Linked DNA regions of Homo sapiens. The protein of the gene in region 1 purifies or fractionates together with the protein of each later gene. This does not show direct contact. Each region holds a gene or a part of one and is shown on either strand. Other genes may lie near its edges. The genes, in order: DCLK2, DCAF4, PPP1R9A and ZBTB5.

Region 1 (8,273 bases):
GCAGGCTCACAGCTTAAGACAGCTCAACTAATTTTTCCAATATTGATTAAGAGCCACAGTCCTGCCGGAAGAGGTCCCCCAACTAGTTTTAAAGAATAAACAGGATTACAGGACTGCACAGCATCAACTCAAACTTAATCCAGCAAGGATGGATAAATCAATAAATTGAAGGTGCTTGCTGGTTTAGTGTAGTGCTGGAGGAGTGCCAGCTCACACTAGAACAGCTTTTAGTCTCCAGAGACTCTCAAGGTCAAGGGCAGAAGAAAAAATAATTTGGGCCATGCAAATTTCTTTTGTCATCTGAGTTCAATGAGATTGGGGCTCTGAATGAATGTTCATATCCTACTGTTTTGAGTCATCACTTTCTATTCTTCACTCAAGACATTTCAGAAAAAAACATACCTCTTAAACTACAAGTTTCATGGGATCGAAGAAGTAGAGCCTAGTTGAACATAATGTTGTAAAATACTACCTGAGAGAGCTTTATTAAAAATAATCAACCAAAACGAAATAAAGCAGTCAATTTTGACAATGTGGTGAATATATTACAGACTTATTTTTACTAATGCAAATAACTTCACAGATAGCTGCTTAGTTCTCCTACATGAAAAATCTGAGCACACAATTTTAATTAAAAGTTGAAACTACTTACATTCTGGAATGATTGACAGTAAGCATTCGTGATTCTTTTTCTTTTTTTCTTTTCTTTTTTTTTTTTTTTTTGAGACAGAGTCTTGCTCCATCGCCCAGGCTGGAGTGCAGTGGTGTGATCTTGGCTCACTGCAACCTCCGCCTCCTGGGTTCAAGCAATTCTCCTGTCTCAGCCTCCTGAGTAGCTGGGACTGCAGGCGCCTGCCGCCACACCCGGCTAATTTTTTTTTTTTTTTTTTAAGTAGAGATGGGGTTTCACCTTGTTTGTCAGGCTGGTCTCGAACTCCTGACCTCAGGTGATCCACCCACCTCAGTCTCCCAAAGTGCTGAGATTACAGACGTGAACTATTGTACCTATATTTTCTTTAAAAAAAAAATTGCATTGCTATGGAGTATTCTACTAATTTGGGGGAAAACTGAAGAATTAAACAAAGACCCATTGTCAGAGAGAGTTCCATATGACAAAAAAAGTGTCCAAGTTTTCTTCTTTTGCAGTAATTTTATTGTATTAAAAACTTCTTCAAAGAAGTGGGCAAAGTCATAAAAAAAATTTTGGCTGTGCAACTATTTGTTATATTATTTATCATATTTTGGTATGATTTGGACTCCATAGATAATGTTTTTTCCAAATCCCCATCCACTAAAAATCAGTGAATGATTTGAAGGAAATTTGTTAAGTCAATTTGTAGTTGAAACTACAGTTGCAGAAGTAGACCCAGTGGACATGCATGCGGTGGGCGGTAAAAGACGCAATCTATACTAAGTACTCCTATTAATGGACATGCATAATGTCCATCTTATCATCTCTCCTATGAGATTCATGTTTACGTTATGTCAATTTTATGTAGTAAATCCACTGTTAAAATTTCTTTAGAGAAGGATATTAACATTGTTGACTCTTAAGAAACCATACCAGGAACAGTAGTATCCCAATGGCATGTTGAGTAACAAGTGCTTAAGCAAACAGGCATTGCCTTGATCCTGCAAATCTGATCTTGGGTCAGTCAAACAACTGGTTACTCTGTTTTAAAATAGCTAGGCAAATATTGCTTTTAAGTGTTTAACATGATTAAGAAAAGCAACAAGGCCCTTTGAACATTGTATCTTCCTTTTTTACTTATACTCCTCCAGCTATCCCCTTACCTCCTCAAGAAGCCCTTAAAACCAAAACACACAACTGACAGAATGGGTGAAGTCACAAGCACATACATATGTAGACTGAAGAGACAATTTAATTTTGGCTGGGTCGCGTTCTAGGCAGGGCAGCAAAAACTTCTGACTAAATAGACAAACTCAACGACCTTTAGTTTTCCTCCATGTGGCTCCATTAGCTCAGCAGAGGTGAATCGTAGACGAGAAAGTATATGCTGCAGGCACTGTGAGGCAAGGCATGCTGCCTAAGTTTCCTCATCTATAAAATGGGGATAATGCCTTCAGGACAGAAAAGCATGCTGAGATAATATAAGAAAAACATCTGGCTTGATGTTCAGCTTCCTCTCCCTGCCAAGCTATTGCTATGACTACATGGAATGTGCCATTTGCATTAAGAAAGATGCACAAGAGCGGACTGTATGTAAACACGCAGTCAGCACATACCTGGGTTCTGCCTGGTCTTTCTGGATGTTATTTAGAACTGGAAACAGGTTCTTAACCACTGATAATGCCTTTTCTACCTGAAAAGGATGAGGCATACGTATTGCAGGAATTCAAGGATGACCCAACATCCAGCCAAGCAGTCTCTTTGACCGAGGCATGGTTGACACAGCAGAATTACTAATTTTTAATAAGTCCCCACTGCTGAATCCAATGGCCTCTATCATTCTAATTAGGTACTCTTATTAGAGGATAAGGCTGGAGAGATTGACCTTGATTTACCTTTTTTCCAACCAAATGTGGAAAACCCTTTAGCACGGTGATTGTTAACCAGGGTCCCACATTAGAATCACCTGGGGGGGGGGCTTTTGAGACTCCAGACGCCTAACCCACACCCCAAACCCAACCAATTTAATCAGGATATCTGGGGGTTGGGGGATCAGGGTCCCATATTTTTCGAAGTCCCCAGTGTGATCCAAGATGAAGCCAAGGTTGAGACCTGCTGTCTAGGATCATCCCTCTTCACCTCAAGTAACTTCTGCTGCAAGGCAAACTAGGAAAGCCAACCTAGAGCATTTCACAACCACAGCTTCTGACAGCAGTCACAACAGGACCCCGAATACTGGAACATGACAGGAGCCTGCACCAGGGTCCACACCGAGGGTCCAACAGAGCTTATTAGTAGGGGATTACCCAGCTCCCCATGGGAGAACCATTTTCTCAAACAGTTTGCACTTCAATACAAATAAGTTCAACAATCTTAGGAGATGCCACCAGTGCCTAAATTGGCCTGACCATCAGGAAATTTTTTCCTTCTTTAAGAGACAAACCTCTTGGGAAGGAAAGTCAGTGTGTATGTGGGCACCCCACCGGCCCCCACCCCCAGCCAATCTCTAGAGAAGCAGACAGAAGCATCAATTCCCGTGCGGCTTGGAAAGCACCCCGCGGGCTCCCCGCTGCGCCGGCTCACGCCCACTGCACCTGCCGGCGCTCCGCCGCACCTGCCGTGCGGCGCCCTCCCCTCCTACCTTCCAGCAGCTCGTCCAGGCTGGTGACCTTCCGGCTGCCGTCGATGGTGTAGATAGTGCGGACACCCTGGGGCAGGTTCACGTTGTCCGACAGGGAGCGGGTGAGCTCTATGAGGAGCGCATCGAAGGACCGGAAGCGGTCGCTGGAGATGGCAAACACCAGGCCCTTGAAGTAGCGGTCCCCGTTCCGGTAGAAGCGCGCCTTCTTGGCCTTCTTCTCCGAGCTGAGGGCCTGCAGGGTCCGCGTGCGGTAGAAGCTGCAGTGGGCACTGTGCGCCGGACTGGGGATGAGCCCGTTCCCCTTGGGGCCCGAGCTGCTGCTGCCCCCGGAGGAGCTGGGGGCCCCTCTCCGCGACCCCGGCCGCGGCCTTTTGTCCCGTTCCTCAAAGTGCTCCAGCTCGATACTCCTGGTGCTGGCCATCGCGGCTGCTCCGAGGGCGTCCGCAAAAAGACGTTCCGGGCCGACTAAGGGTGCGAGCGCCGGTGCAGGGACGTCTGACTGCGAGGGCCCTTAACGCGCCGGGACACCTGGCTCTGGCATCCCGCCCTCTCCGCGCAGGTGGGGCCGAGGAGCCGCGGAGGAGCCGACCCGCCCGCGCCCTCAGCTAAAAGTGTCCGCAGCGCCGAGCTGCCCAGGTCATTGTCCAGTGCGACTTGCTCCGTGCCTCCCGCCTGCCGGGGAGCCCCACGCCCCCGCAAGCGCCTCCTCCACCCGGCCACGCCTCACAAGTCCCGCTCGGGAGCCGACCGGGAGAGGCAAAGTTGGGCCGCCCGAGGCTCGCGCTGGGCCCGCGGGCGCCCACAAAGCTCGGGCGTCTGCCGAGCGCTCCCGGGAGCGCCGAGGGGAGGAAGGAAGGAAGGGTGGGGCGGGGCGCGGAGCGTGGGAGAGGCCCCCGGGGGAGTCGCGCGGGCCCAGGCCCGGGGTGCAGCGCCGCCGCCTCGGCCGCGCCCGGATCCCGCCCGCCGGGCAGCGCGCGCCGTTCGGGGCTGAGAGGGCCGTGTCTGGCCCCTTCCTTCCCTGGAGCGCGGCCCTAGCGGGAAATAATGCAGCCCGCCTCCCACGCAGCGGTCAGGCCCGGCCCACTGGCAAGCATCCGCGCTCTGGCCTCCCTCCGCCGCCGACAGGCTGTCAGCGCTGGAGGAGGCTTCCCGGCCCCGGGGATGCCAAACCGCGGAGAAGGGGAGGAGGGGGCGGAGGAGGGGGCGGAGGAGGGGGCCGAGCGCCGGCGCGGGAGGAGCAGCTCCTGCGGGTCCCGGGCAGCCCCGCCCGCCTGACGGCTCCTGCCCGGCGCCGCGCGTTAATGGGCGCAGCCGCGACGCGCGCTCCTCCGCCTGGGAAACGTAACCGCGCAGGCCAAAAACTACAAAGGAAGGAGATTCAAGGGCAGGGAGCACATCCCCAGCCAGCATCCCAGTGAGGACCCCAGGCCAAACTACCGCAGAAATCCGAAGCCCAGCATTGACTTGGGGCACACCATTCATTTTTTTTAAAAAAGATTTGTTGCTTTATTAGAAAATCCTTTGAGAAAACAGCCTCCACTGTTTCCATTGCAGATTCGCTAATATGGTACGTTCAGTAACTTTGAATGAATGATGAGAAGTTATTGGGTGGTAGAGGGGGTTATGTAATCAACGAATATTTATCGAGAGCGTACCATGTGTCAGGCATTGTTTCTGTCACTGGGATGCCCTAACAAAGGAAAGAGAGACTCTGCACCCACTCCCCCCGCCCCGCATATTTAATGTTGTCAATTAAAGCTTCTTACCTAAGAGGCCTATCATTTGTGAGCACCCATCATAGTGGAAATCTTAATGCCGTAGTGTCTATTCAACAATAAAAACATCTTTTCCAAGACTTAAGAGAAATACTAGTTACTTGCATTTTGTTATTAGGAAAAATAAAGCTCAAATATGTTTGATCCCAATTTGGCACGTGAAACCTTAGAACATTCAACACCTGGTTTTCTGAGCAGCCCTAGACAGCAATCCAAACTGACCTTTCAGGAAGAAAGGCATAGTTGCTTTTTTTCGGGTTGAACTGAGTCCTGGAAGAGCATGAATAAAAGAAGGTAGAAGCACATGCAACGGTCTAGCATCTGTGAAGTTGGTGCGCCCCACCAAACACACGCACACACACGCATACACACCCTTCATGGCAGCTCCAGAAAGGTCTCCTGCTCGGTGCACAATACTACTCCTAAGGCAGTTCTGGGCATACACCTGGGCATACCTAACTTCCTGCGGGGTTGGGGCATGCTAGGAAGTCAGAGCTGATCTGAGGCTTCAATGTAGTTTTTCTAGAGGAAAATCCTGCAGCATCATTAGGTCCACCACCTTAAAAGGCCTCAACCTAGATCAGTTAAATCAGAATTTCTGGAGACGGGCTTCTCCAACAGTATTTTTTTAAAAGTACCCCTAAGGTATATCCAGAGTTTCCAACCACAGGCTGTAACACCAGGAATCAAATAAATCAGTGCTTCTTCTCAAACTTTAATATATTTACATGTCATAGGGGAATCTCGTTAAAATGCAGATTGCTATTCTGTAGCTCTGGGGTGGAGTTTGAGATTCTGCATTTCTGATGAGCCCCTGGGTAATGCCAATGCTGCTGGTCTTGGTACAAGACTTTGAGAAACAAGAAACTAAATTGCAAATTTATTGAGATAAGTTTCCATCTAAGTACCAGTAACTCCACAGAGCCCATCAACTTGCCTTAAGATGGCCATGTTCATTTGTATCACTGTTAGTATTTCTTAGGGGGAAAAAGACTTTGTAAACTATTGCTGTAGAAACAAATTATCCTAAACTTAATGATTTACAACAATAAACATGCATAATCTCAGCATTTTTGGCAGATCGGAAATCTGGGAGCAGTTTACCTCAAAGCCTCATGTGATTGCTGTCAAGATGTTGACAGGGGTCACAGCCATCTAAAGGCTTGACTGGGTCAAGAAGATCCATTTCCAAGACAGCCCATTCACATGAATGGTAAGGAGGCCTCAGTTCCTTGTCATGAGTACCTTTCCATAGAGTTGCTTAAGTGTCACCATGACTTGTCGGTTGGCTTCCTCTAGAGCAGGGGTGTCCAATCTTTTGGCTTCCCTGGGGCACATTGGAAGAAGAATTGTCTTGGGCCACACAGGAAATACACTAACATTAATGATGGCTGATGAGCTAAAAAAAAAAAAAAAATCACAAAATCTCATAATATTTTAAGAAAGTTTACGAATTTGCATTGGGCTGCATTCATAACTGTCCTGGGCTGTGTACAGTCCACAGGCCATGGGTTGGACAAGCTTGCTCTAGAGAAAGCATCCAAGAGAGCACAAGGTGGAAGCCACAATGTGTGTTATGATATAGCCTTGGAAGTCATACACTGTTATTCCCACAATATCCTGTAGGTTACACAAGGCAGCCCTGTTTGATGTGGGAGGAGACTACACTAGGGTGTGACTAGGAGTCAGCAATTATTGGGGTCATCTTGCAGACTGGTACCACGGGTTTCAATCTTTCAATCTTTAGAACACTAACATGCACTTCCTCACTCAAAGATCCTTGATAAGAGATTTGGCCCTTCTTAAATAGTGAGTACAATTATACAATATGCCAGTATTTTTAACTCAAGGTGGATTAAAGACTTAAATGTAAAACCCCAAACCATAAAAACCCTAGAAGAAAACCTAGGCAATATCATTCAGGACATAGGGATGAGTGAGGACTTCATGGTGAAAACACCAAAAGCAATTGCGACAAACGCCAAAATTGACAAATGGAAATAAAGAGCTTCTGCACAGCAAAAGAAACTATCACCAAAGTAAACAGTCAACCTACAGAATGGGAGAAAATTTTTGCAGTCTACCCATCAGACAAAGGTCTAATATCCAGAATTTACAAGGAACTTAAACAAATTTACAAGGAAAGAAACAACCCCATCAAAAAGTGGGCAAAGGATATAAACAGACATTTTTCAAAAGAAGACATTTACATAGCTAACAGACATATGAAAAAAAGCTCAACATCGCTGATCATCAGAGAAATGCAAATCAAAACCTCAATGAGATATCATTTCATGGCAGTCAAAATGGTAATTATTAAAAAGTCAAGAAACAGTAGATGCTGGCGAGGCTGTGGAGAAATAGGAACACTTTTACACTGTTGGTGGGAATGTAAATTAGTTCAACCATTGTGGAAGACAATATGGCAATTCCTTAAGGATCTAGAACCAGAAATACTATTTGACCCAGCAACCCCATTACTGGGTATATACCCAAAGGAATATGAATCATTCTGCTATAAAGACACACACACACACGTATGTTTACTGCAGCACTGTTTACAATAGCAAAGTCATGGAACCAACCCAAATGCCCATCAGTGATAGACTGCATAAAGAAAATGTGGCACATGCACGCCATGGAATACTATGCAGCCATAAAAAAGAATAAGATCATGTCCTTTGCAGGGATATGGATGAAACTGGAAGCCATCATCCTCAGCAAACTAACACAGGGACAGAAAACCAAATGCCCCATGTTCTCACTCATAAGTAGAAGTTGAACAATGAGAACACATGGACACAGGGAGGGGAACAACACACACCAAGGCCTGTTGGAGGGTGGGGTACAAGGGGAGGGAACTTAGAGGACAGGTCAATAAGTACAGCAAACCACCTTGGAACACGTATACATGTATACCTTTGCACATTCTGCACATGTATCCTGGAATTTAAAGTAAAATTTAAAAAAATAAAAATATGCCAGTATTTTAACATTATTCCCTAACATTATATCCTTAAGTTAAAGAAAGGTTACTGCTTTTCAACAGGGGTAGGGGGAAAAGAGAAAGTATTTCCAAAGCTGTTACTTAGTTAAAAAATGTTTTTTTGATCCTACTCTCCACACTTGTTTTCTTGAAGAATCTTATTTGTGATCCTCTTATAAGAATTGAGATGCAATCACTTTTCATAAGGTATCTATGAAAAAATATGATATAAAGACCCAG
Region 2 (7,533 bases), on another chromosome or scaffold:
CAGTGTAAACGCATGTTGAATCTGGACGGTGGGGGTTACTCTGGCCTAGGTTGTGTGCCGTATGACTTTCTGAAGGGTAAATGTCCATGCCTCCTCCCAGAGGGGAGCCTTGTGCCTAACTGTCCTTAACAGCTTTTTCCAGGCTATGCCTCATGGGACTCGCAGAGACTCCAGGCTGTGCCACCCTGCTCCCAGCATCACTGTTCGTCAATAGTCACCCAGGTACAGGGTTCTCCTCCTTTAAAGAAATCTGTCCTCTGTCTCCCGAGAGCTGTGTGGGGGTGGCTTAGAGAGAAGTATGGGGCCGCTGCAGAGGCACTGTGGGAGGATTCCCTAAGCCTGTCCCAGGGTTAGTACCAGAAGCATGTGTTTTTTTTACAGCATCTGCCCCTTTTTACCCATCTTGGGCCATTTCAGTCATTTCAGCAGCCAGAGCAGACTTAACACGCATGTAAACCAGCGTGAGCTCAGAACAGATTCGGACGCCCGTGCACATCATTCAGAAAACACCTCTGAAGGTCCAAAGCACCTCAGGTGCTATCAGGGATACTTAACAGTCTGCCTACGTTAAGGCAATTTGACTCCTCCTTCCTGACAGCATTCTGGATATTACATTTCAGTCTATCAGAAAATTAGGATCAATAAGACCAGGGTGAGAGGCCTCTTAAGAGTGTGGGCTTCAGGCAGACCTGGCACGAATCCCAGCTCTGCCCCTTGCCAACTTGAATGGAATGTTGAACCTCTCTAAAGTGGACAGGGCCTTCTCAGTCCACATCCGTGGAGAATTAGGTGAGATCATGCACATTTAGCCCAGTGCCTGGTATTTCATTGCACAGCAAGCTTATGAGGCAGGAGTGTGTCTTACCACCATTTTACAGATAAGGAAACTGAGGCAGACAGTTTCAGAATTTGTCTTACAAAAGTAATTTTTAGTGTTGGAGGTCAGGCTCACAGTACCCTTTGGGGAGGTAGTAATTGGGAAAGGGATGTGAGGGAGGCCTCTGGGGTACTGGATTGTTTTATGTCTTGTCTTGTCTTTTTTTTTTTTTTTTTTTTGAGACGGAGTTTTGCTCTTATTGCCCAGGCTGGAGTGCAATGGCACGATCTCAGCTCACCACAACCTCCGCCTCCCAGGTTCAAGCAATGCTCCTGCCTCAGCCTCCCAAGTAGCTGAGATCACAGGCGCACACCACCACGCCCGGCTAATTTTTGTATTTTTAGTAGAGACGGGATTTCACCATGTTGGTTAGGCTGGTCTCGAACTCCTGACCTCGTGATCCACCTGCCTCGGCCTCCCAAAGTGCTGGGATTACAGGTGTGAGCCACAATGCCCGGCCTTTTTTTTTTTTTTTTTTTTTTTTTGAGATGGAGTTTCACTCTTGTTGCCCAGGCTGGAGTGCAATGACACGATCTCAGTTCACCGCAACCTCCGCCTCTGGGGCTCAAGCGATTCTCCTGCCTCAGCCTCCCAAGTAGCCAGGATTACAGGCATGTACCACCACACCCGGCTGATTTTTGTATTTTTAGTAGAGATGGGATTCTCCATGTTGGTCAGGCTGGTCTCGAACTCCCGACCTCAGGTGATCCACCCGCTTCGGCCTCCTAAAGTGCTGGGATTACAGGCGTGAGCCACCACGCCTGGCATGGATTGTTTTATTTCTTAACCTGGGTGGTGGGTACATGGCTATATTTAGTTTGTGATAACTCACTGAACTGTATCCTTACAATCTGTACGTTCTATCAATGCAAAAGTTTATTTTAAAAAATATTTTTTCGAAGCACAGTGGCTCATGCCTGTAATCTCAACACTTTGGGAGGCCAAGGCAGGATAATCGTTTGAGCCCAGGAGTTCAAGACCAGCCTGAGCAACATAGCAAGACTCCAATCTCTACAAAAAATAAATAATTAGCCATGTGTGGTGGCTCACACCTGTGATCCCAGCTACTTGGGAGGCTGAGATGGGAGGATTCCTTGAGCCTGGGAGGTTGAGGATGCATTGAGCCATGATCACGCCACTGCACTCCAGACTGGGCAAAAGAACAAGACCCTGTCTTAAAAAAAAAAAAAAAAAAAAAAAATATATATATATATATATATATATATATATAGTTTATTTATTTATTTATTTGTGTGTGTGTGTGTGTGTGTGTGTGTGTGTGTGTGTGTGTGTGTGTATATACACACACACTTGCCTGAGATCACATAGCTGGTAGGTGATCGAGGATCGGAGCCACCTTACCTCCAACAGTATACTACCTCCCTGATATCAGTACTATTCGTACTGTAAACACGACTACTGGGAACGTTAACAAAGATGCATTTTCGGAATAACCACTTGTGAGCCAGGCATCCCAGCTGAGTCTCTCTTGCAACCACAAAACCCAGAATGGGGCCAAAGGTATAGACCCTCTGAGCAGCTATGGGCATATTTGGATGTTTTCCGAACCCAGTGGTCCCTGGCCTGCCTAGAAGGCAGCCACACTTTACATTCTCCTATCCCCTTAGCAGGAATAGACCGGCCTGGCATGCTCTGCAGTTTCCGGATCCCTGGTGCCTGGTCCTGTGCCTGGTCCCTGAATATCCAAGCAAATAACTGCTTCAGTACAGGTGAGCCTGGCTCCCCAGGTGCCCAGAGAAGAGGCCTTAACAGGCCTTAAAACCCCATGTAGTTGTCCCTCTCCCCAGACTACATGTGACATAATCTTACCAGCCCATCTCTGTCTCCGCCAGGCTTGTCTCGGCGGGTCCTGTTGACCAACGTGGTGACGGGACACCGGCAGTCCTTTGGGACCAACAGTGATGTCTTGGCCCAGCAGTTTGCTCTCATGGTTGGTTGGATTGGGACAGGCAGAATATAAAAGTTTGCCCCATGTAGAAATTTGGCCAGATTGAAATTGGACTCCTCTGTGTGCCATCTAGTACTCTTTGACAGGGGAGAAAGAGCATCAGAAAGGATCAGTGGGTTCCTTTGTAAGGGTGTCTGAGCCGAGTGAAAGTTGGTTGATCCAGAAAGGCTGGCCTGAGTTGCTCTACACAACCTCTCATGGAAAGGTATTGTGAGCAGTTCTTGGGTACTTGGATTTACCCAGTAGGACAAACCATTTTTAAAATGTATAAGCCAAACACCAATTCTTCACAGCTCCCAGGTTATATATTTTATATGTTTAAAAAATCAGGCCAGGTACAGTGGCTAATGAATGGCTGTAATCCCAACACTTTGGGAGGCCAAGATGGGTGGATCACAAGGTCAGGAGTTCAAAACCAGCCTAGCCAAGATGGTGAAACCCCTTCTCTACTAAAAATACGAAAGTTAGCCAGGCATAGTGCTGGGCGCCTGTAATCCCAGCTGCTCGAGAGACTGAGGAGAATTGCCTGAACCCGGGAGGCGGAGGTTGCAGTGAGCCAAGATCACACCACTGCACTCCAGCCTGGGCAACAGAGCAAGACTCTGTCTCAAAAAAAAAAAAAAATTGTGGTCATTACTATATTTCACAGACTTTTCTCTAGAAAATGCCGTCTTCCCTTAAAAGTGAATGAACCCACTAACCTGCTTTTGGTGGAGATGGAATGCTATCTCTGGGACTTCAGAGAGAAAGGCCAAACGGGACAGTGCAGGGGGGTGGGGGGCAGCTCCTAGGACCTCCGTGCTACCCATGAGGAGGACACATGGGGTCTGGTTCTTCTAGCCACTAACAAGGAATCATCCTCCCTTCCAACTCCATTGAGACCCAAACCCTGACCAGCACGTGTCTAATCACACCGTCTGACCCAGAGGCTGGAAGAGGGGTTGTATCAGGAGGACCTGCCCTGCCCAGCCTCAGAGGGATGTCATGATAGCCAGGCACTGAGCAGTCCCTCTTTCCACAGGCTCCTCTGCTGTTTAATGGCTGCCGCTCTGGGGAAATCTTTGCCATTGATCTGCGTTGTGGAAATCAAGGCAAGGGATGGAAGGCCACCCGCCTGTTTCATGATTCAGCAGTGACCTCTGTGCGGATCCTCCAAGATGAGCAATACCTGATGGCTTCAGACATGGCTGGAAAGGTAGGGGATCATGGACTTTCTCAGGCCACAGGGTCTCGTGGCCCAGTGCCCTGCCAGGTGAAAGGGTTCTGCTGAAGAGGTCCTCACACCAAGACCCCAGGCAGGGGAATTTCGCTGAAGACCAAGTGATTTGTAGGCCCTGCATGGGGACTGCTTCGTTGACCATATGAGCCTAATCTGACGTAAACAAAAGTGAAAAGGATTCTCTGGTTATGTCCTTTTTTTTTTTTTTTTTTTTTTTTTTGAGATGGAGTCTTGCTCTGTCGCCCGGGCTGGAGTGCAGTGGTACTATCTTGGCTTACTGCAACCTCTGTCTCTCAGGTTCAAGCGATTCTCCTGCCTCAGCCTCCTGAGTAGCTGGGATTACAGGTACCCGCCACTGCGCCCGGCTAATTTTTGTATTTTTAGTAGAGATGGGGTTTCACCATGTTGGTCAGGCTGGTCTCGAACTCCTGACCTCATGATCTGCCCACCTTGGCCTCCCATAGTGCTGGGATTACAGGCATGAGCCACCGTGCCCGGCCTGGTTACATGCTTTTGATGAACAACAAGGCTCAAGAATTCGAGATGGAGATCTTCATGACCTGCACAGGCCACTGGAGACCACCTTGCCTTCCTGGCTTTGCACTTGGGGACCACCATGGTACCCCCTGGCCCCTCCCTGATGGCCCCTGGTGCTTTTTCCACAGATCAAGCTGTGGGACCTGAGGACCACGAAGTGCGTAAGGCAGTACGAAGGCCACGTGAATGAGTACGCCTACCTGCCCCTGCATGTGCACGAGGAAGAAGGAATCCTGGTGGCAGGTACTTGAGGAAGGAAGGGGAAGTTCCACCCCATCAAATACTGTCTCTCAGGGGCGATCCCAGCAACTTCAGCAGCAGAGGGAAAAGTTACCCCAAAACAGAACTGAATCAAGGGGAGTGTGGACAGCTGGGTGGGGAGACTAGGAGGGAAGTAGAATTAGATTATATTAGTAATCAGGAGTGTAAATAAATGTCCACCAGGTGGACAGCCTCATCCCATGTCAGTGGGCAAACGTCACTTCAGAAACAGGCAGGTGGGGAGGTCCTGGGGAGCCTGGGTTTGGAGTTTGAGTGGATTTCATCAGGCCAGCATTATTCCACCACGCAACTATCTTATCCAAAAACTTGGGCTCCCTGTTGTCTCTACTCACATTTCCACCAGAGGATGCTGAGAAAAGAAGTTATGGTCATTGTAAAGATTCTTGGCCCCGGCCCGGCGCGGTGGCTCACGCCCGTAATCCCAACACTTTGGGAGGCCAAGGAGGGTGGATCACGAGGTCAGGAGATTGAGACCATCCTGGCCAACATGGTGAAACCCCATCTCTACTAAAATACAAAAATTAACTGGGCATGGTGGCACCTGCCTGTAATCTCTCAGCTACTCGGAAGTCAGAAGCAGGAGAATTGCTTGGACCAGGAAGTCGGAGGTTGCAGTGAGCCGATATCACGCCACTGCACTCCAGCCTGGCAACAGAGCGAGACTCCGTCTCAAAATAAATAAATAAATAAAAAAGATTTGTGGCCCCTTTACTACCATCCCTGTGGCTCCATGATCTGCAGATTAGGAGCAGCTATCTGGCCACTAAGCCCCCTGGAAGGGAGTTACCAGTTGATTACAGATGATGGTGGCTATAGCGTAATCAGACAGTGTGCAGGCTCAATGCTTTCACACTGAAATAGTAGCTGCTGACACTGCAGAATGTGTTCTCAGTCTTCAAGAATTGTCACCTCTACTGGTATTCCTATAGAAAGGGCTTATACCCCATGGAACATTTTTGTGGCTAGGAAGCATTACTTTGTTAGGACATTCATAGACTTATTTACTATTCTCATCAACACCAGGACTTCGCCTCCTTTTTAAGTCGATTTTTCACCTGTTTTTATCACAGAAGAGCTCTTGTGAGCTGGATGATAGAGAGAGCTCAGCCTTGCTGAGAGGCAGATGCAGGTAGTTACCAGCTGCAGTAATAAACTGCAGCCGGGATTCAGCTTCAGCCAAGATAGCACTTCTGGTCTTAGAGCCACACAAGTGATCAGAATCACAAATGTGAAATCCATGACTGCCCAAGGCCTGTCCTCTTCTCCTGCTGAAGGTCTCCAGTAGTGTATATCATGTTTCTGGGCTGCTGTAACCCATGCTGTTGTGTGTCACAGTCCTCAGAACTGGAGCCCTGAAGACTTAAACCGGTCCTAGGAACTGAAGCATTAAACCAGAAAGAGCTGTGGGGAGAGTTGTCAACCTAGCCCATCCCCAGGATGTAATGACTTTGACAGATCTTTTACTATAACATGAAAAGATCAGGCCAGGTGTGGTAGCTATAATTCCAGCACTTAGGGAGCTTGAGGCCAGGAGTTTAAGACCAGCTGGGGCAACACAGCAAGACCCTATCTCAAAAAAAAAAAAAATTAGGCATGGCGGCACACACTTGTAGTCCCAGTTAACTCAGGAGGCTGAGGCAGAAGGATGGCTTGGGCCCAGGAGTTCAAGGCTGCAGTGAGCCCTGATCACACCACTGCACTCCAGCCCGGGCGACAGAGCAAGACCCTGTCCCTAAAAAATGGGGGAAATCAGTTGCATGTCACCTAGACCAGGTGGGCCACACTCGCACTTGAACGTTCCGTGACATCAAGAGCAGCAGAATACCCAGACATTAGCCAGGATGTCTCCGAGCCATTCATGGCATCACACAGCCAACCAGGGCATCTTGTCATTGTTCTAGCACAACAGGGCGACTTGGGTTATCCGTAGAAATACTGTCCGTTAATGAGTTTGTGTTTTGGCTCACATGAAATCACAGCCCTGAGGAATCTTGGGAAGCCATGTCCACATGTAGGTAAGTTTTCCTTTGCATTCTCTCACTAGCCTGCCATGTGTCTCTCCTCTTTCCTAGTGGGCCAGGACTGCTACACGAGAATCTGGAGCCTCCACGATGCCCGCCTACTGAGAACCATACCCTCCCCGTACCCTGCCTCCAAGGCCGACATTCCCAGTGTGGCCTTCTCGTCGCGGCTGGGGGGCTCCCGGGGCGCGCCGGGGCTGCTCATGGCTGTCGGGCAGGACCTTTACTGTTACTCCTACAGCTAATTCTGCAGGGCACAGCCCAGAGCCATGTGGATTTGACTTACGGGAGTAAAGCGTAACTTTTTACTGCATCTAATGAGGGTGTTTTAAGTGACACTCAGTGTACACAGATCCCATCCTCTGGCTGCTAGGAGAGAAGTGCTGAATGTTCCGTGTGGAGATGCTCAGGAAAGTTATTTGAGTTAAATTGCTGGCTGAGAGAGCTTGGAAGTCCTTTTCATAAAAGGTACCTCTTTCCTTTTCTTATTGAATTCTTAGAACTTAGTTAACCCTCCCTGCCTTTTCTTAACAAAAAGGACTTTTCTAAGGACTGAAGATTGGCAAAAACGAAAAGCTTCTTCCTCCAAGAGCCCATTGAAGAAGCCCAGTGATGAGACGGTGAGATG
Region 3 (7,533 bases), on another chromosome or scaffold:
ACATTCAATCAGTTAGAGGAAAAAGTATAGTAATGAAAGAAACTAAAACATCTTTAATGGGTCACAAGGCAAAGAAAAATGATTCGATTCTGCTTACTATAATTTTCTTTCGTAGCTCCTGATTCTAGAACACCCATACATATTTAGATAGGAAAGACTGCACTAATGACCCACATTGGGTAATTTAGTGGAGATAATTACTTGTCAGGTAGAAATAATTCCATTTTTCCAATGTCATAAGCATAGTATAGTAAACTGATGTAACTAGATAAGAGTTCGAAAAAGATAATTGTAAGATTTCTATGAATAACAGTGAAGAGGGGGCTGGGTGGGTCAGAAACATCGAGAGGGGCACTCACTTATAGACCTAAGGATAATATGGGGAGAAGAGAAACAGTTCCATTTTGAAAACCTGGAATAGAATATGCAAATTTAGCAAAATTTACTATAAAATTATTTCATGAAAAAGAGTTTGGCAAATAGTTAAAACAGTGATGTATTGAATTTATAGTCACAGAGAATAATTACTCCCCTTTTAACAAGAAACTTTTGATAGCAAAACTCTTTTAAATATTAAAAACATTCTTCCACATAATAGGAAATAAAAGAAATATGGTTAATCTTACATATATGCTTAGCTTCTGAGGCTTGGCATGGAAGACCAGAAAAGGTACTGGTACTACTTATTTGTTCTAACTAGCCAGAAGTAACTGATGAAAAAAATCTAGTAAAAATCTCCGTGGTCAGTCTCCGTGACATTACACCGAGATCCAAGAGATGGAAGCAAAGGAGCAGTAGCTCAGAAACAGCTGTTGAAAATCAAAAGCAGAATGTGGTAATGGTCTCTCTCCCTGCAGTGAAAGGAGGCCCTCCTGATTCTCTCAACAGCTGAGAAATGCAGAGTGGCAGGGCAGGGGGCCTTGCTAGTCGATATGTGCACTGTCTGTAGTGGGAAATTCTGTAGTTACTGATCTAAGAATAGAGAGGAGCAGCCTGATTCAGGCCCCAGCTGTGGCTTGCGTGCTCCACATCCAATAGTCAGTCATTCTACATGACTTTCCGCTGGGCTTCTTGTTTCTAAATCATAGAGGTGTTTCAAAAAGAATAAAGAAATTCAGATGTTTTAACAGTTATAAACAACGATTAATTATCAAAAATAGCAAAGAGGCCCTGGCAGCCAAAAACTATAAAATATACAAAACATAATCTCATGAAAAAGTGATAGAAGTGACTTCCAAAACTTAATGTGTATTTATGCTGTAACTATGCTCCTGGATAGGAAAGATATCTCTAAGGTCATCTTTTCTGTTCCACTAGATATTACAAAATTATTGGACATAAACCTTCTTTAGACAAACATAACTATTCTTTAGTTATTAGAAGCGGCTTACTTTTGTTGAAAATCCTTGATCAACTTCTTTGCCTTGTTGTATTTCTTTTCCAAGGCCTGATACTGGCTTTGAGTCTCTTTGAGATGCTCATTCACTGTGTGGCATAATGTTTGGGCCTCAATCCAGTAGCTTTCCAACTTCAACATTCTTTCCTTATTCTCTTCTATGTTTTGTTGGAGTTGGGTTTTTTCTAGTTCCCACCTCACTTTCTCATTTTCTGCTGCCTGCAGCTGGAGAAAGCAAACGTCAAGGCAAAGATAATTTGGCCACTTTTGTGGCAAAAATCTCTCATTTTTATAGCATGTTGTAGATCAAGTTCTATTATCATAAACAATCACTGAATCCACTTGAGATGAGAAAAGCAGGTATTATTTTTATAATTCCACAGATGATAAAATGGAAGCCTTGAAAAGTGAAATGATTTGTCCAAGGTCACACATTTGATAAGTGATAAAACATGGATTGGATTCCACCTCACACGATATTTCCATCACACCAGGTGATCTGAAATTCTGTGAGCAGTAAAAGATGTTTCAGAGTTTGATATATCCAACGAATGTCAACATGTTTTGAGAGTTTTTAAAAAATATATAATTATATATAAAAAATTAACTAAAAAGGGAGTGGAGAGGGCCAGGGAGGAGAGAGGAGTTAGAAGCACAGTATGGCTTAATGGTTAAGAGGGGATCTCTGGAGTCATTCAGCATGGATTTGAATCCCAGTTCTGTCATTATTGGCCATTAAACCTTGGACATGTAATTGAAGTTCTCCAAGACTCAATTACATCATCCATACAACAGAATTGTGATATAACACATCAGAATGCTTGAAATAGCTCCTTGGGCATAAGAATCATCTGATAAACATTAACCACTTTCACTCTGCTTTTAACCCTTTTGGTGATCTTATTTCATTCTTTATTTCAAGGAACATGAACATATTCTATAGCTCATTATTTTACATGTAGTGTAATGAATTTCTCAAGCTTTATAAACCTCAATTCCCATAAAAATATAAAAGATAGTGTAAGTAAAAGTATAAATTTTTGCTTGGTTAATTTAATTCCCTCCCACGGAACAGAAAGCCATAACCAGCTTTTTGTTTTTCTGCTTCTAGGGACTCTTAGGAATAGATAGTAAACTAGTCTAATACCCTCATTTCTACAGAAATCCAATACTGATCATTTAGGTGAGGGCTCAAAAGTCATTCCCAATAACTCTCTGGCCTTCAAACTGGTACTTTATCTACTTTATATGCCTTCTTTAAAGTTCAAAAGGATGCAAAGTCATTATAAACTATCAATGTTCAAAATCATATAGCACTTAGCAAAAGTAAACATGTATTTATATACACACACATCTATGTTTTTGCAAATATTTTTAACTAAACACATTTGCAAAACAGTTTACAAAGTTAGAAAGCATCCAAAACAATGTCAAGATTAGGAATTCTATTATCAAAATGAATAATAAAGAATCATAATAAAGTGCTAATCTGTGGATATTACATGCCAATATAATGATGAAAAAATATAAAATGCTAATTTATAGTATTTTCTAAGTTAAATGTCTATAGTCTAATACATAAGCGCCATTAAAACACAATCACAGGGAAAAAGAGATCTTTTTAAAACAACAATTTAAAAAATCTTCAATTCTTTCTATGTCAAGAGACAATGACAATTTAAAACAGGAATAGGTTATTTACTGCATCTTTTATTAAGCAATGTTTTGTATCAAGTTGTTTATTTAGCAACCGCCACTAATTTAAAATTATTATTCACGGAGCTGGACTAACACCGTGAATGATGTATAGTCGTATTTTGACTAAAGAGCTGCAGAGTGAATTAGCTGAGAATAGCATTTAACCAAAATAGCCTTGCTAATTCATCTCCATTTAAAACACACGGAGAAACCAAAACAAGTGTTCAATGTGAACAACAAAAGAGATCATTAGTGGTAGTGGTGGTGGTGATTGGGGGCGGGGGAGGGTAATTATGTTTTAATTTTTAAAAGACCATTGAAACAATAAAGAATATTGCTTTAAAAGTAATTTAAAATATATTTTTAAATCTTTGAAATTGTATATTTGATAAAACTAAACAAAATTGCTAGAATTGTGTCTCATACGAGTGCCTTAAAGTTTGTCAATGAAAATATATAGACTAATAATACATACTCCCTTTTATCAAGACCTTTTCTCCCCCACAAATTTAAATTATGTGAACCAAACAACTAAAAATTTCCAGTAGTACCTGGCACTTAAATTATGCATGTATTAAGTTTATAAGATTTAATTATTAGAAATTAGAAATGGTTTATAAAACATTGATGTGCTATACTAAATTTGTTCCTACAAATGATTAAATCTATTTATAATAAGGTAAGTGAAGAGGAGATATAGTAGCTTTGCTTAAGGAATTAGTAATCAAAACATACTTTGCATACTTGAACCATTAAAAATATTACTTTTTAAGGAAATCTCAGAGGCCACATATGTGCAAATACATAAATATATATATCTAAAATATTGTGTTATTTGCACTGAGGGGGATGTGGGTGTTTGCTCTCACTGGCAGGTTTGTCTACGTACCTGACAGTGAAAATGAATCTATCACATTTGCATTCTTTCAAATATACAGGGACAAAACCTTTAGTCCTAGGATTGGATTTATTCATAGTATCTGAAGTTTAAAAAGTAAAATTCAAACACCATGTTTCGGTGCTTACCTTGGTCTTCAATTTTTGAATCTCTGCTTCTGTAACTGCATGTTTGATTTGCAACTGAAAATTGAAAAGAAAGAAAAAATCTGAACTAAGAAAGTGTATCTATATTTGTAAAGCCTCAGCAGCTACAAGAATGCCTTATTACATAGTAAAAGGCCTAGAAAAGTGCTGCAGTGCAGCAAGTTGTAAATTAAAGTGTCTACTGTGTGAAATGACACTGGGTGCAAACTAATTAAACACAGTTTATGGTCTATACTCCCTAACATCAGATTAGGTTACCAATTTAATTGCTCAGGGACCAAGAGAAGAAAACACTTTTTATTGCCCTCTTTGCAGCTCTTCCTTTATGATTTGAGCGTCAAGGAACTGTTTCCTTGCTAAGTCTAGCTAACTGAACGGCATACACAGGCAAGTGAGCTGATAGTGTGATTTAATTCCAAACCTGGACGTGTGAAGATTTATTCCAAATCTGCAAGAAAGGTGGCGCTATGGTCCTGTGAGTTGCAAGCACATTCTGATCAGCAGCTCCACTGCAAAGGGAGAGAGGAGGAGGACTGCAGTTGCACGGGGAAATCTCTGATACATATTTTTTTCTTTTAATTGCAGGAAAGGTACAGATCCAGATTTCTGTCCTCCAAAAGATCTGCTCCTTTTGAAGACTCAGACCCCCAACAGCTTCTGCCACAGCTTATTAGCAATAAGAGTCACAGTTTACATTTGTTTTGCTTGTCCCTCCCCCCGCTTTGTTTTCTTTGTAAGGGAAGAAGAAGGAACTGAACGAATCATTCGTTTCCTTAGGGGATCAATAAATACTCCCAAATTTAAGAAAAACAACTTATGGGTTCACAATTTCTTGTCTGAAATCCTTGGGGCCAGATGTTTTTGGAAGTCAGCATTCTTCCAACTTCAGAAAAGTAGTTACGATGTATCTTCTACAAATTGCTTATTATCCACAGCAGGGTCTTTGGAGGCACTCTATAGTCAAAAACACATGAATTATTTTTGCCACCAAACATGAATATTCCCACTAAGCGAGGTACATGAAGACTGTAAATAGCATCCTGTTAGGTCAGGTTGTACCACTAAATTAGTTTGACACAAAATTACAAAAAAGACTGGGAGCGTTTTGGATTTAAGACTGTACATGAGGGACCATAAACTTTTACTATTACTGTAATCAAGTAAGGCTAAGAGGTTTTCTTATCAGAAGTGAGTGAGTCTGACAGAAGGACAGAAATGTGGAGTTTTCAGACTAGCAATGTGAACCTGTGGAGACCACAGCACCTCATAAACCTCAGCCCTCTCTTGGGTTTGCAACCTGTATTCCCTTGGGTTTTTACCAAGTTCATGGGGACACATGGGAAGGATGATAAAGGGAAGATGGAAGAACCAAGGACAGGTCTATTCGACCCCCTTGGATGCCTGTGGCTAACTGCCCAGAACCTGAGGGTTCCTAAGTTCCTTGTAAAGTGCTCCTCCTGTTATGCAAAAGGCATGAGGTCTGCACTGCCACAGCTCTTGTTACTGCTCTTGGTGCTGAGAGTGATTTTGAAACTTTTCAGTTTGATTCTGCCGCACTCACACTGCTTACATTCTTCCTGACCTGGTCACTCTGGCCATCTTGCTGGTGTGGCTATTGCTCCTTGCACCCTCACCGGCTCCTAGGGGCTTCTATGCTTGAACAGTTTCTAGAGTAGGACCCTATGTGGAAATGTTATTTTTATAAGACACAAAATCTGGCTCTTTTAGTTTCTTACCACAGCACAAGTGGTACAATTCTTACTTACCTGCCTTTAGCAGATGCTCAGAGTATTAGTGCACCTGGCAAGGAACCTAATCACAAGTTTTCTCAATGACTAGATTGGAAGAAGGTGTAAAGACACAACAGTGCTGCTCAGAAATCCCTGCAATTCCTACCCCTTCACTGATGAGGTCTATACTCATCCTAAGTCCTAGTCTGGATGGATCTTTTGGAATCCTGACACACCAGGCTAGCCAGTCAGATAGGCTTGAATGCCCAGTGGACGCTCCAACTGTAGGCTCTTCTGAACTCATTTTAGACACGGGAAGACTAAAGATTGGAGAAGACAGCCAACCTGGTCTTTTCCTCACAGTGAATCACCATTAAAACCAGAACTAAAACCTGGATCTTCTCGTTCTGATCCATTGCCACTTTCCTTAGAAAATAAGGATGAATTCAATAGGCATTCGTTGAAGAGTTGCTATGTGCAGGATGCTGTAAAAATGACTTTTTCTCCCTCTAATAAATATTAGGGCTAATCTCCCCCACCAGTATAAACTAATAACGTAAAAAAGGGCAAAAGTACTTAGACATTAGACACATTATTTATATATAAATCTACAAAAACAAATAATGTATATGCACACAAACATACATGGCTATGTGCTAAGGCATCCAGAAAATCCATACACTTAGGTGATTTTATAGGATTTGCAATCGCTATTGACAAGATATACTTCTTGTTCTTTCAACCATGTGCCAAGCATGAAGAGTAGTTAACTTAGACTGCTTGAATTCATCTCTGGTCTACCATGTACTCTATGGAGCATTAGAAAATTACTTAACCTCTTTCATTTCACTTTCCTTGCCTGTAAAATTCAGTTCCTTATAAGTCATAACCTTCCTTATTGGATGATTAAGTGATAAAACCCATATAAAGCACTTAGCACAGTGGCTAGCATATAGTATGTCCTCAATAAACTCAGCTAGGACCAAGAAAGAATGATCTGAATAACTCAAATATGATTACCCCAGCTTCACCTCTCAGTTAAATGTGCTAACTGCTGTAAAATGTCACACCTGAAGTAAAATGAACACCTCTGATTCAATTTAAAGAGAAACAAGAAATCAAAAGGGCAGATTCCACAGTGAACACTGCACTATGGGCAAGTGACAGATTTTATTAACTCCTCGTAGGGTAACCAAATACGTGGCATGCAGCTTGTTGGCATTTTGGACTTTCTTTTCTCAGATCACTGTGTCTTCTATAAGTTGCTTCTCTGGGCCTCAGTTTCCCATATGAAAAATGCTAGATGTGAGGAACTCCAAGGGCCCTTTCACATACAACAGGTGTGACATTTATGAAACAAAGAACCTGAAGGTAGTTGTCAAGGTTGCAGAGCTTAGAAATTCTTGTCCTGAGCCAATATTTTCCTTCTTGTGAATAAATACACTAGATTAATCCACAAATTGTGGGACAAACCCAGGTAAAACTGTGAAACAGCCCATGTTGATCTATTCTACCCTTTCCATCTCACCAAAAATGGATAACAGGAGGGAACTGAACTAATTAGCAGTGAGGTGAGAACAACTGCGCAAAGTTTGGAGTGTTACTAAGTATAGCTAAATTCTTTACATATAGGAAAGCAGAATGAATTGTGTAAATTCACATTAT
Region 4 (7,533 bases), on another chromosome or scaffold:
AGTAATCAGGACTTAATAAATTGCTAATTGAAGATGTTACAGTGTAACACCAACTCATCTGGCCTTCTGTTGTTTGGTTCTTTCTTTCATTTCCAGGAAGATCACCTCTTACTCAGTAAAACTATGCATTTCCAAAGTCACATGGATTAATATGTAGAGGGGCCCTATTTGTCAGAGGGATGCTAGGTGGACATCTGTCATTTGCAGCTCCCCAGAATCTTCTGAGCACCCCTTCCCCCCTTCACATTTGGATAGTCTGCAAATTGTGATTCCCACTTTCCCAAGGTGGAATCATAGTTATGATGCAGACATTAGCCTCTGTATTGCCTGAAGATGGTCTGCCAACAAGGTATAACAGGAAGTTCCAAGCATCCCTAAAGTGTTTTGAGAGGAATGTGGAGAACTTGAGTTGGTCTCAAGGCCTGTGATGGGGGATCTAGTGTAGAGCTGAGGATCTCTAGGCTGATGGGAAGTTAAAAGATTGTAGGTACTGTTTGCCTGTCTTCCAGTATTACTTAAACCTTTTATCTTTGTTGGGGTTGTGTTTAGCTACCTCAGTAGCCTCTTTTCAAAGATCCCCTGGCTCTTGGAAAATTTCCTCAAAATGGTGTTTCTGGGACCACAATTTAAAAAAATTGTTTATTTATTTATTTTAGAGATGAGGGCTTGCCATATTGCCTAGGCTGTTCTCCAACTCCTAGGCTCAGGTAATCTTCCCATCTTGGCCTTCCAAAGTACTGGGAATTACAGATATGAGCCACCATGCCCAGCCCCGTAATTTTTAAGTAAGCCATTTTTCTCATATAAGTTCTTTTGCTTATCTAAAAAAAAAAAAAAAGAAGCATTGAGCAGAATATTAGTGCCCTTTTAAATCAGTATGCCTAGTTGAAATACTATTTATTTGTGAAGTCAGTCTTTTATGGCCCCCCTCACCTATTAACTCAGGAAAATAATTCCCACCTGCCACTGTTGTTTTGAAGATTAGAAATAATGTAAATTAAAAGTACTTAGCATAATGACTGTCAGGCTCTCAGTAATTACTGTTATTATACCTGTAATCCCAGGCTGGCAGGAGGATTGCTTGAAGCCAGGAGTTCAAAGCTGCAGTGAGCTATGATCATGCCACTGTACTCTAGCCTGGGCAACAGGGTGAAACCCTGTCTCAAAAAAAAAGCACAGTAAAAAATATATATTTTATTACCACTACCATTACCTCTGTTACTGTCACCAGTGAGACTGTTACTACAATGCTGGGTGATATGGCTTGGCTCTGTCCCAACCCAAATCTCATCTCAAATTGAATCCCCACATGAAGGGAAGGAGGTGATTGGATCCTGGGGGTGGTTTCCCCCATGCTGTTCTCCTGATAGTGAGTTCTCACAACATCTGGTGGTTTTATAAGTGACAGTTTCTCCTTCACACACTCACACTCTTCTGCCACCATGTGAAGAAGGTCCTTGCTTTCCCTTTGCCTTCCACCATGATTGTAAGTTTCCTGAGGCCACCTTAGCCATGCAGAACTGTGAGTCAATTAAACCTCTTTCCTTTATAAATCACCCAGTCTTGGGTATTTCTTTATAGCAGTTGAAAACAGACTAATACACTGGGTCTATTCCCCACTGTAGGAGAGAAAGCAGTAACGCTGAGTGTCTAGTGTTCCTTGTTTTTGCCTGTTGAGCCCAAGCTTCCATGGTCGCTTAGAAGAGCAACTCTGAGTCTTGTACAACTTCCCACCACAATTCCCTGTTTATTTTATTCCTCAAACCAGAATGTTTCTTCCCTGTTACTGCTACAAAATAATTACCCCTCTGGAACTTGGCACTTATTCATATATGAGTGTACTTTCTAAGGCAGGGCTATAGACTTAATGAGCAGTAATTGCATTTTGTTTAATCTCCCCAAAGCCTTAAGCTCTGTGGGCCCTGAGTGAGTCGGGTGGGGACCCGGGATGTGTGTGCTGCTGCCTGCCACTGCTGGCTCTCTGCTTTCTGCCGGAAAGCTTGGTAAAGCAAGAAGGGATGTGGCAGTGGCTGCATCTTTGGAGATCTGATCTCTCATACATGATAGCAAAGAACAGACACCTCAGTGGGAAAGTATGTGTGATCTATTTTGTTGTTGAAAGTTCATCAAAGCTCAACAAACATAGGCAAAACAATATGGCCAACATGTGTCTGCTGCTTTGAGGCATTTGCTTTTCCGATAGTTAACTTTCCAAGTATAGCTGAATAGCATAATAGTCTCAGTCGCCACAGTAGACCCTTGAATTTTGTGGACTTAGTTTGCCATTTCAGTTATTTCCCAGGATCCTGACCAACTTTGGCCTGTAAGGCTGTATGGCTGGGACATCAGAGCAAGTGGTTGGGCCTGGGGAGCCACTTGGCACCCATGCTGCCTTCTTATGAAATGCCATGATGGTATTTGTGAATTTTGGAGATTTGCAAAGATCTCAGGTATATCCCTTTAGAATATCATAGATCTACCTTTTTTAAATTTAATTTTATAAATATATGTGTATACATTTTTATGTATTTATTTATTTGAGACAGAGACTTGCTCTGTCGCCCAGGTTGCAGTGCAGTGCAGCGATCTTTGCTCTCTATAACCTCTGCCCCCTGGGCTGAAGCAGTCTTCCCACCTTAGCCTCCCAAGTACACTGGGACTACATGGCAGGCACTCGCCACCATGGCCGGCTACTTTTTGCATTTTTAGTTGAGATGGGGTTTTGCCATGTTGCCTAAGGTGGTCTCGAACTCCTGAGCTCAAACAATCTGCCCGCCTCAGTCTCCCAAAGGGTTAGGATTACAGCCATGAGCTACCACACCCAGCCTATAGTTCCATAAGGCTTATAGGTAAAAAGAAACAAAAACAACAACAAAACAGCAGTCCCCTGTCCCATCCTTTTCCCCATCAATTACCCACTCCTCAGAGGCAACCACTTTCAATTATTTCAGCTGTTTCTTCCACTATTGACTTCCATATTTCTTTTTTCTTTTTTTTTTTTTGACAGGGTCTCACTCTGTCTCCCAGATTAGAGTGCAGTGACGTGATCTCTGCTCACTGCAAGTTCTGACTCCGGGCTCAAGTGATCCCCCTCAGCCTCCCAAGTAGCTGGGACTGCAGGCACATACCACCATGCCTGGCTAATTGTTTTTGTATTTTTAGTAAGAGATGGGGTTTTGCCCCATGTTGCCCAGGCTGGTCTTGAACTCCTGGGGGCTCAAGGGACCCACCTACCTCGGTCTCCCAAAGCGCTGGGATTACAGGCGTGAACCACCAAGTTGGTTAACTTCTATACTTCTAAATAACATGCCAAATTACTATTTTTTGAGATAACCTATTTCAGACTGTATTTCTAGATTAATAAGGAAAGTGAAGATTTAACTTTATTATACCTCATCTCCTCTACCCTCTTCCCCCATGCAAAGTTGCTTTCTCTCATCCTCCCAATATCTCACATTCGGTTTAGTGTACATATTTTATGACTGTGTAAATATTGTCTACGAATGAACTACATATTGTGTCCTGTGAGTAAACAACCTTTTTTTTTTTTCCTGGAGTTAATCATTGATCCATTTAAAAACTTCTTGTTTTTTTTAATGACCTATCTGCACACTTGGATAGGACTGGTAAATTACAAGCACTCCCAGTCACATCAGGTTATCTATCCATTCCTTTTTTTCCCACCCCCCTTGGAGACCCACTCCTTGGAGTCCTTCCTGCTCCAGTCTGACTGCTTTTGCTCTCCAGGCCTGCTGCCTAGTTGTCATCTGGAGCTTCATCATCATCCTTGGGATTCCCTTTGCCTGTCTTCTCTGGTGGGTCTCCTGTTTCCTACAATCTTAGTCGCCTCCTGAGAAAGGATAAACCTTTGGGTTCTTATCTGAAAATGCCTTAGTTTATCCTAATTGATTAATAGTTTAGCTGGGTGTGGCATTCTAAGTTGGAAATCATTTTCTTGGATAATTTTGAAGGAACTGTCATCTTCTAGCTTTTAGTGCTGCTGTGGCAAAGACGAATGCCAATTTTATTCCTGATGTCAGCCTAGTGTGGGGATTTGTATCTTCATATTTTGAGTACTTGTTGGGCCTTTTTAGTCTTAATAAGCAAATTTCTTCAGTTCTCAAAATTTAAAAAATACCATTTCTTGGCCGGGCGCAGTGGCTCATGCCTGTAATCCCAGCACTTTGGGATGCCAGGGTGGGCGGATCACCTGAGGTCAGGAGTTCAAAACCAGCCTGACCAACAAGGTAAAACCCCTGTCTCTACTAAAAATACAAAAATTAGCCGGGTGTGGTGGCGTGCACCTATAATCCCAGCTCGTCAGGAGGCTGAGGCAGGAGAATCACTTGAACCCGGGAGGCGGAGGTTGCAGTGAGCCGACATTGCGCCACTGTACTCCAGCCTGGGGGAACAGAGCGAAACTCTGTCTCAAAAACAAAACAAAAAACCATTTCTTACATCATTTTCACCCTCTGTATTCTTCCTTTTCTCTTTCTGTAGTCAAGATATTGGACCTGATTAATTCCTTCTCTTATTCATTCACTTATTTTTATTTTATTTTCTGAGACAGGGCCTTGCTCTGTTGCTTAGGCTGGAGTGCAGTGGCCCAGTGACAGTTCACAGAAGCCTTGACTTCCCAGGCTCAAGTGATCCTCCCACCTCAGCCTCCCAAGTAGCTGGGACCACAGGTGCACGCCACCATGCTCGGCTAATTTTTTTTTGAGACAGGTTTCACTCTGTCACCCAGGTTGGAGTGCAGCAGTGCGATCTCTGCTCACTGCAGCCTCTGCCTCCCAGGCTCAAGTGATCCTCCCCCTTCAGCCTCCTGAGTAGCTGAAGGCACATACCAGCATGCCCGGCTAATTTTTTGTATTTTTGGTAGAGACAGGGTTTCACCTTGTTGCCCAGGCTTGTCTCAAACTCCTAAGCTCAGGCAATCCTCCCACCTCAGCCTCCAAAAGTGCTATAGGATTACAGGCATGCGCCACCACATCCTGGTGTTTTTTTGTTTTTGTTTTTTTTAATTGGATAGATTTTCAGCCAGGCCTCCTGCCTTAGCCACACCTTCATTCCATTTCCCCTGGCAAGGGCAACCAGTTCCTTGGCCTTTGGGAATGAGATTTATATATGTTAGGTTGTTTTATCCGCTGCCCAGTTTAGGATTTTCGCTTTTGGGGTGTGCTGAGTCAGTTAGCACTCATTTACCTCTCCCCAGCTTCCAAAATGCTATTGAAGGCCTTCTCATTCTCTTTTTCCTTGTGGGTTTACACCTTTAAAGTTTAAACAAAAACTTTAGTGTTTTTTTTTTTTTTCCTTTGAGATGAAGTCTCACTCTGTCGCCCAGGCTGGGAGTGCAGTGGTGTGATCTCAGCTCACTGCAACCTCCGCCTCCTCAGCCTCCCGAGTACCTGGGATTACAAGCATGCACCACCATGCCTGGCTAATTTTTTGTATTTTTAGTAGAGACAGGGTTTCATCATGTTGGTCAGGCTCGTCTTGAACTCCTGACCTCAGGTGATCTGCCCGTCTCAGCCTCCCAAAGTGCTGGGATTACAGGCATGAGCCTCCATGCCGGGCTTCGTGTCATTTTAGTGGGGTTTCAGGAAAAAGCACGGGGCAAATGCGTGTGTGCAATCTGCTACCATCTATAACTGGAAATCTTCCACACTAATATTGATTTGCCCTTTTCACTTATTTAGGGTTCCTAAGACTTTGGAATTTCTTGGTATTCATTCCTCATCCTTAGGGAATGCAGAATTCTAACAAACTTCTGTGGGATAGATATGCCATCACTCACACACTGGTCTTTACTAATTTAGACCCTTAGTGTTATACATGGCTCATATGAAGAGTAAAGGGGAGCCTGTCGGTAGCTAGGCCCACATGTGTGCATGCCTCCTGGGCTGATGGCTGAATTGCCATTTGCTTCTTATATGACAAGCTCTTAGTGTATGTGCCCATTATCAGAGATATCACGGGCTTCAAAGGTCCAAGCTTGGCCATCCATTCCACTCTTTTCATCATACCCTTTGTGTTCTGACTTTGAAGCTTTTCTAGGTCTTAACATTTTCTTTCTTTGTTTTTCTGTAGGATCATGGATTTTCCTGGTCACTTTGAACAAATCTTCCAGCAGCTGAACTACCAGAGACTTCATGGCCAGCTCTGTGATTGTGTCATTGTAGTGGGGAATAGACACTTTAAAGCCCACCGCTCCGTGCTGGCAGCATGCAGCACGCATTTCCGAGCCCTGTTCTCAGTGGCAGAAGGAGATCAGACCATGAACATGATCCAGCTGGATAGCGAGGTGGTGACAGCAGAGGCCTTTGCTGCACTGATTGACATGATGTATACCTCCACCCTCATGCTGGGGGAGAGCAATGTAATGGATGTCTTATTGGCAGCCTCTCACCTGCATTTGAACTCTGTTGTTAAGGCATGTAAACATTACTTAACGACAAGGACGCTGCCCATGTCTCCCCCCAGTGAGCGCGTTCAGGAGCAGAGCGCCCGCATGCAGCGCTCCTTTATGCTACAGCAGCTGGGACTAAGCATCGTGAGCTCAGCCCTCAATTCCAGCCAGAATGGCGAGGAGCAGCCAGCCCCCATGAGCTCTTCCATGCGCAGTAACCTGGATCAGCGCACGCCCTTCCCCATGAGACGCCTTCATAAGCGCAAGCAGTCTGCAGAGGAGCGGGCCAGGCAGCGCCTCCGACCCTCCATAGATGAGTCTGCCATTTCAGATGTTACACCGGAGAATGGGCCTTCAGGGGTTCATTCTCGGGAGGAGTTCTTTTCACCAGATTCTCTGAAAATTGTGGATAATCCTAAAGCTGATGGAATGACTGATAACCAGGAAGATAGTGCGATCATGTTTGATCAGTCTTTTGGCACTCAAGAAGATGCCCAGGTGCCCAGCCAGTCTGATAACAGTGCTGGCAACATGGCACAGTTGTCCATGGCCTCTCGTGCAACTCAGGTTGAGACTAGTTTTGATCAGGAAGCTGCACCTGAGAAAAGTAGTTTTCAGTGTGAAAACCCTGAGGTTGGCCTTGGTGAGAAGGAGCACATGAGAGTGGTGGTTAAATCTGAGCCCCTGAGCTCACCTGAGCCTCAGGATGAAGTGAGCGATGTGACCTCACAAGCAGAAGGCAGCGAGTCTGTGGAAGTGGAAGGAGTTGTGGTCAGTGCCGAGAAGATAGACCTCAGCCCTGAAAGCAGTGATCGGAGTTTTTCAGATCCCCAGTCTAGCACAGACAGGGTAGGTGATATCCATATTTTGGAAGTCACAAATAACCTAGAGCATAAGTCCACTTTTAGTATTTCGAATTTTCTTAACAAGAGCAGAGGAAATAACTTTACTGCAAATCAGAACAATGATGATAATATTCCAAACACCACTAGTGACTGCAGGCTGGAGAGTGAGGCCCCCTATTTGTTGAGTCCAGAGGCTGGGCCTGCAGGTGGGCCCTCCTCTGCCCCTGGCTCCCATGTAGAGAACCCATTTAGTGAACCTGCAGACTCCCACTTCGTCAG

What was found.
Region 2: the proteins of DCLK2 (region 1) and DCAF4 purify together in Homo sapiens (co-immunoprecipitation; one large-scale study listed by IntAct). This does not show direct contact.
Region 3: the proteins of DCLK2 (region 1) and PPP1R9A purify together in Homo sapiens (affinity purification with mass spectrometry; one large-scale study listed by BioGRID and IntAct). This does not show direct contact.
Region 4: the proteins of DCLK2 (region 1) and ZBTB5 purify together in Homo sapiens (affinity purification with mass spectrometry; one large-scale study listed by BioGRID and IntAct). This does not show direct contact.

Annotation. Positions count from the first base shown.
Region 1 is NC_000004.12:150,074,448-150,082,720, reverse strand, and holds the start of DCLK2 (serine/threonine-protein kinase DCLK2), read right to left. Parts: upstream 4,277-8,273; 5' UTR 3,694-4,276; coding exon 3,273-3,693; intron 1-3,272. UniProt on the Homo sapiens protein: Protein kinase with a significantly reduced C(a2+)/CAM affinity and dependence compared to other members of the CaMK family.
Region 2 is NC_000014.9:72,951,656-72,959,188, forward strand, and holds part of DCAF4 (DDB1- and CUL4-associated factor 4), read left to right. Parts: intron 1-142; coding exon 143-222; intron 223-2,505; coding exon of another isoform or gene 2,506-2,508; coding exon 2,509-2,607; intron 2,608-2,730; coding exon 2,731-2,828; intron 2,829-3,867; coding exon 3,868-4,041; intron 4,042-4,730; coding exon 4,731-4,845; intron 4,846-6,956; coding exon 6,957-7,150; 3' UTR 7,151-7,533. UniProt on the Homo sapiens protein: May function as a substrate receptor for CUL4-DDB1 E3 ubiquitin-protein ligase complex.
Region 3 is NC_000007.14:95,244,114-95,251,646, reverse strand, and holds part of PPP1R9A (neurabin-1), read right to left. Parts: exon of another isoform or gene 5,738-7,533; coding exon of another isoform or gene 5,709-5,737; intron 5,093-5,708; coding exon of another isoform or gene 5,036-5,092; exon of another isoform or gene 4,665-5,035; intron 4,648-4,664; coding exon of another isoform or gene 4,560-4,647; intron 4,175-4,559; coding exon 4,121-4,174; intron 1,622-4,120; coding exon 1,392-1,621; intron 1-1,391. UniProt on the Homo sapiens protein: Binds to actin filaments (F-actin) and shows cross-linking activity. Binds along the sides of the F-actin. May be involved in neurite formation. Inhibits protein phosphatase 1-alpha activity.
Region 4 is NC_000009.12:37,441,113-37,448,645, reverse strand, and holds part of ZBTB5 (zinc finger and BTB domain-containing protein 5), read left to right. Parts: intron 1-6,090; 5' UTR 6,091-6,094; coding exon 6,095-7,533. UniProt on the Homo sapiens protein: May be involved in transcriptional regulation.